Linked DNA regions of Homo sapiens: region 2 is linked to region 1. The links come from fine-mapping of genetic effects on gene expression. A gene starts in region 1. The other region holds a variant in brackets. All regions are shown on one strand. Distances are from middle to middle.

The links. PIP is the estimated chance that this variant, and not a neighbour inherited with it, causes the effect. A credible set is the group of variants that fine-mapping cannot tell apart.
Region 2: its variant is the best candidate, but not a certain one, in a credible set for the expression of EMD in whole blood (TOPMed, PIP 0.57).

What each region holds. Positions count from the first base shown.
Region 1 is chrX:154,377,808-154,380,687 of GRCh38, forward strand. EMD (emerin) reads left to right here and starts at 1,488. Exons shown (of 6, transcript NM_000117.3): 1 at 1,488-1,759; 2 at 1,883-1,987; 3 at 2,135-2,212; 4 at 2,427-2,560. The coding sequence starts at 1,678. RefSeq lists silencers at 579-708, 729-1,148, 1,159-1,458 and an enhancer at 1,866-2,445.
Region 2 is chrX:154,349,602-154,352,493 of GRCh38, forward strand. It overlaps FLNA (filamin A), which reads right to left. Exons shown (of 48, transcript NM_001110556.2): 41 at 2,580-2,846; 42 at 2,283-2,420; 43 at 1,980-2,095; 44 at 1,308-1,440; 45 at 430-606; 46 at 48-266. Among named protein-coding and RNA genes, the nearest start is that of FLNA, 24 kb to the right of the region's middle. The variant A/G (reference allele first, on the strand shown) is at 1,479.

The DNA.
Region 1 (2,880 bases):
AGAGAGCCAAGATTGCACCACTGCACTCCAGCCTGGGTGACAGAGCGAGACTGTCTCAAAAAAAAAAAAAAAAAAAAAAGAATATGAATGATGAATGTCACCTCCTTTCTCTTCTCCATGAGACAGCCAATATCTGATCAAGGCCCTGGGAATGGGAATCCATAGCTCGCCACCCACGTCTGCCCCCTGCCTAGCCACGCTGCGCTCAGGGACCATTCCGACAGGAGAGGACGCCCCACTTCAGCTCCCCCCAGTGCCCCGGGTGAATGAACGGCATGAAGGGTTAGGCGGGCACACGTCGTCTCTGCACGCATCGCACGGCGCCCTCTGCCCGCGCCCACTGGCGTGCCCGTCGGCATGCCCGGGCCCCTTCGAAGACTGCTTGCTTCTGGAGTGCCAGCGGCCTCCTGGCCCAGTGCCCCATTTCCTCCCGGGTGGAGCGAGGGAGGAGGAAGGGAAGCAGAGGGGTAGGCGGTGGTAAGCAGCAGGCACATGTGCGCGGGCGAGAGCCCCGCAGACTGGGAAGGCGGGCCCATGGCAGGGGGTCTGCGGGGATCGCGTAGGCGCGGGCCTTGCCCTGCAGCCGCTTCCCGGGCGATGCGCACACAAAGCGCCCTCGGCAGCGCCTGGCCCGGGGCCCGCGCTCTCTTAGGGTCCGGGCCCTTCCCGCCGCTGCTGGGGCGGCCGACCGGGATGCGGCCGGGGAACCCTAGGCTCTGGGGCCCTGGGAAGGGGGACGACGGCGGGGAGTAGGGATGTGCAGGGATCGGGCGAAGCCCAAGCGACTTAGGGACCAGAGCCACCCCAAGCGCCGACTTCGCCCGCTCGCACGTCCCGGGTCCCTCGCGCGCAGGCCCCGCCCCTCTCACCCCGCCGCACGCCACAGGGTGACGTCTGGGCTCCCAGCCGCATCGCCCTGACTCCCGCGCGGGCCCCGCCCCCTGCCGCTAGCCAATCTGTGCGTTTGTGACTTTTGGGCCCGCAGCCCCGCCTGCTCCCACAGCGATACCGGTTTGCATTGCCCTGACTCCCGCGCGGGCCCCGCCCCCTACGCCGCTAGCCAATCCATGCATTAGTGGCGTCCGGGCTCGCAGTACCGCTCGCTCCCACCGCGAGACCTTCTGCTCCGCGCCCGCGCGGGCCCCTCCCCCTCCATCGCTAGCCAATCCCCGTTTTGTGACGTATGGGCTCGCGGCCCCGCTCGCTCCCACCGCGAGACCTTTTGCTCCGCGCCCGCGCGGGCCCCGCCCCCTCCATCACTAGCCAATCCCCGTGCTTGTGACATATGGGCTTGCGGCCCCGCCCGCTCCCATCGCGAGACCGGTTCCCACCGCCCTGACTCCCGGGCGGGCCCCGCCCTCTCCGCCGCTAGCCAATCCTCGCGTTGATGACGTTTGGGCTCGCGGCCCCAGCCTCCCAGCTCTCAGGGCACGGCCGGTCTGTGCCGGCTGCTCCCGCGGTTAGGTCCCGCCCCGCGCAGCGCGCGCAGCCTGCGGAGCCAGCGGCCGTGACGCGACAACGATTCGGCTGTGACGCGACAACGATTCGGCTGTGACGCGAGCGCGGCCGCTCCCGATGCGCTCGTGCCGCCCCCGCCGTGCTCCTCGGCAGCCGTTGCTCGGCCGGTTTTGGTAGGCCCGGGCCGCCGCCAGGCCTCCGCCTGAGCCCGCACCCGCCATGGACAACTACGCAGATCTTTCGGATACCGAGCTGACCACCTTGCTGCGCCGGTACAACATCCCGCACGGGCCTGTAGTAGGTACGCGGCGGCGGGCGGGACCCCTTCCGGGCCCCCTCCTCGTGCTCCGCCTCGCGACCTCCCCGCTGCCCTCCCCGCGCGCCTTCCCCGGCCCGCGGCCCTGACCGCCCCGTGTCCGGCCAGGATCAACTCGTAGGCTTTACGAGAAGAAGATCTTCGAGTACGAGACCCAGAGGCGGCGGCTCTCGCCCCCCAGCTCGTCCGCCGCCTCCTCTTATAGCTTCTCTGGTGAGAGCCTCGCCTGTGGGGACAGCCTGGGACGCGGGGAGGATGGGGTCGCGAGGGTGTGGCAGGGGGGCCGGTCGAGAGCGGCACTGGAGAAAGGGGAGGGAAGTCTGGGGGGGCAAACAGTTCTGTCTCCTCCTTTCAATCCAGACTTGAATTCGACTAGAGGGGATGCAGATATGTATGATCTTCCCAAGAAAGAGGACGCTTTACTCTACCAGAGCAAGGGTAAGGCAGGGGTTGGGTGGGCACGCTGGCACCTTCACCCGACTTCGTCAGGGACCCCGCTCACAGGGAGGACCTGAGACCTCAGTCCCAACCACTCCAGCAGCCTTAGGAGGGAGAAACTGTTACAGGTCCCGAAATGGGATTCAGATTAGGGCCATCAGGCCAGGCGGGGCACACCGATGCCCCCTCTGCTACCGCTGCCCCCCTTCCCAAGGCTACAATGACGACTACTATGAAGAGAGCTACTTCACCACCAGGACTTATGGGGAGCCCGAGTCTGCCGGCCCGTCCAGGGCTGTCCGCCAGTCAGTGACTTCATTCCCAGATGCTGACGCTTTCCATCACCAGGTGAGCTGGCTGGCAGGCGTCCTGTACTTGGGTACAACCTAGGGGATCGCGGCTGTGTTTGGATAAATCCAGGGGGGCACTGGGTACAAATGGTGGCTCTTGGGCCTCCGGGGAGACTCTGTGTGACTAGAGCACCCTGGTCTGGGATCTAGGCTCAGACTCTTCCTGAGAGTCCTGGGGGCAAAAGGGGATGCTGGGGCATGAGCACAAGTGGCAAGGCCCCATGGATAAAGGGCTGAACACCCAGAGCCATTCAGGAGGGTGTGGGTTCCTGGCCTCTAACCAAAGGTCAGAGGGGACTGGCTGGGGAAGTTTGGACT
Region 2 (2,892 bases), 28 kb before region 1:
TGGTGCCGGGCGTTGGGCAGATGCCAATAGCTTGGCCCCAGGCTCACCTGTGACTTTGGCCTTGAAGGGGCTGCCCCCAATGTGGTAGGGGCCGCCGTACTTGATGGAGATGAGGTAGCTGCCAGGTGCCATGGGGGTATAGGTGACGCGGTAGCCCTCAGGGCACTCCTGGCAATCCATCTTCACCTTGGAGGGGCCGTCAATGGTCACCGACAGGGCACCAGCTCCCGCATTGCTCGTGTTCACGACGAACTCAGCTGGGTTCCCTGGGAGCACAGGAGGTCAGGCAGAGCCAGACTGGCCTGCCTCCCTGTCCTCGGCCACCCAGCACAGGCTTGTCACCTCCAGGTGCCTCCTGTTGTCACCAAGAGCTTGGAGGCAAGGGCCTAGCAGCTGTGTGCACACGTGCAGCCGCACCGACAGACTTACCTGTGACACCGCCTTCCAGACCTGCTCCGTAAGCAGACACCAAGCCTGGGTCCCCTCCATGCCCAGGCTCCCCAACTCGGATCTTGAAGGGGCTTCCAGGGATGTGGGTGCCGTTGAACTTGACGTCAATCAGGTAAACGCCATTCTCCCGAGGGATGAAGCGCACAGCATACTTATCTGAGGAGCAGGGAGTCATGCTGTGGGCCTGGGGCCCCTCCTCAAACCAGCAGATGGTGTCTGTGAGGAACAGCCTCAACCCTGGCCCTCCCCATTTTGCCGGTCCATCAGTGTGAGCCCAGCCACGCTGGGCACCTGCACCCCGCAGCAGACCTCCTGAGGGCCGAAGGTTTAGACACTCAAGCTGCCCACCGTCAGGGTGCATTGGGACGGAAATCTTTTACAAGCCAAACCCAGGCCTTGCTGCCTCCTAAGAAAGGTTACCGTGAACACCATATCCCCTGCATGTTAACAGGCTCAGAGACGGGCAGGAACTTGCTTCAGGTCATGCAGCTGGGAAGGGCAGGACTAGGCCGTGAAATGAAGCCCACTGGGCTCCTCCTACCCACAAGGCTGCCCCAGGCCTGTGCACAAGTACCATGGCCGTGGCTGAAGGGCCGGGCAGCACTGAGGCTGGACTTTGAGTCTTTCCCTGTGGAGATGGCATGGTACTGCAGGGTAGAAGGCCTTCCTAATAGCTGTGGGTGGCGAGCCACATCCCCAGCGGCTTGGGTCACCAATTGGGAAAGGGTTGCCTGGCTTAGGGGGCCCAGGAGTTGGGGCCCCGTCTTGGCTGCTTACAGAAGCGGTACCTTCCTTTTGTACTCTCAGCCTGCTTCCAGCCAGCAGGGCAGGGCGGCCGGGCAGGGACAGGGCCTCACCTTGGTCAATTTCTGTGACATAGCACTCCTCCAGGGCTCCTGAGGGGCTGTGCACCTTGGCATCGATCGCCCCCTTGGCCCCGTTCAGGCTGACTGCAAAAGAGGCTGGCTGGTTGACCTTTAGCCCTGACTCCTGGAAGCACAGCAGACATGGTTAGATGGGGGTGCTTG[A/G]GCCAGGGCAAGGGAGGACGGAAAGGCCCCAGGAGCAAGAGGCCCGCGGGTCGCACTTACCCATCTGGCGTCCAACTTGGTTTAAAGAGGGAGAGCCACTGATTTGCAAGGGGCAGCAAGCCACAGGCGCACATCCCCGCCCCTGCCCCCACACTCTGCCGTCGCACACACCCAGGTGGCAGGAAGGGAGGGCTGCCCCACCCTGTGGGCAGCACCCAGCCTTGGCAGGCTGTCCCTCTTTAAACCGCAGCCCTGGTGCTCAAGGGGCACAGGCTTCTGTTCAAAGCCTTTAGACCTGAGACACGAGAAAAACTCCACGTGGTGGGCAGGATATTTCCTGCCGACCCCAAGCGTGGGCTGCACCCGGCCAGAGCAGAGGCCTGGAACCCAGAGCTGGGCCAGGGGGGTCACTGAACACAGGGCCAAGGCCTGGTCTCTGCGGTGGCTCTGGTCTGTCCGGGCCCAGGAGCCCCAGGTGGGCGGTTTCTCTCGGTGCCTCACCTGAAGGCTAGAAACAGTGAGGCGGCGGGCGTCGCCAGACGGAGAAGCCACAGGCACCACGAAGGGGCTGTCGGGAATGTGTTCCTCGTTGAACTTGACTGAGACTTCGTAGTCACCTGGGCAGGGAAAGAGTGTAAGACCGGCTCATCAGCCTTTGGGCCTCCCACCTCCCACGAACAGCCTGGGTGGCCCTGTGACCTCAAAGTGAAGAGTGAGTGCCAGGCAGGGCTATCTGTGCCAGCCCTGGGTCCAATACCCACACTCAGGCCCCACCTCCTCCAACCCCAGCCGGGTTCCCAGTACCTGGCTCCTGGACCACATAAGCCACACCACAGGAGCCGTCCTTGCGGTCCTCAAAAGAGATCTCAGCCTTGCTGGGGCCCTCGACAGCAATGGCCAGGCCTCCAGCACCAGCTTCCCGGGTCCAGATACTGAATTCGGCTGTGGGAGAACAGTTTGTCCTCACTGAAGGCTGCTTCACCAGCCTCGGCCCCCTCCAGGCATAGCCAAGGTAGACATGCCTGCCGGCTCTTTCCTCCACCCCCAACCCCACCCTGGCCAACGCAGGAGAGCGAGCACTCGGGGTGTGAGCAGGCCTACCTGGCACTCCAGCTTCAGCTCTCTCCAGGCCAGGGCCCCCAGCTCGGACCTTGTGGGCTCCCCCTTCCCCTAGGGGCCCCACGGTGAACTGGAAGGGGCTCCCAGGCACGTGCTGGCCCTTGTACTTCACGCTGACTGTGTGTGTGCCCATCTCAGCGGGAACAAAGCGGATGCAGTAGGTGTGGTTCTCCCCTTCCACGATCTCGGCCTCATGGGTCTTGCCCGATGGGCTGGTCACCTGGGCTGTCATATCCTGGATGCTAATTTCTGCAGGGTGGGGATGGGCTAGTGAGCAGCAGCCCTGGGCTCCACC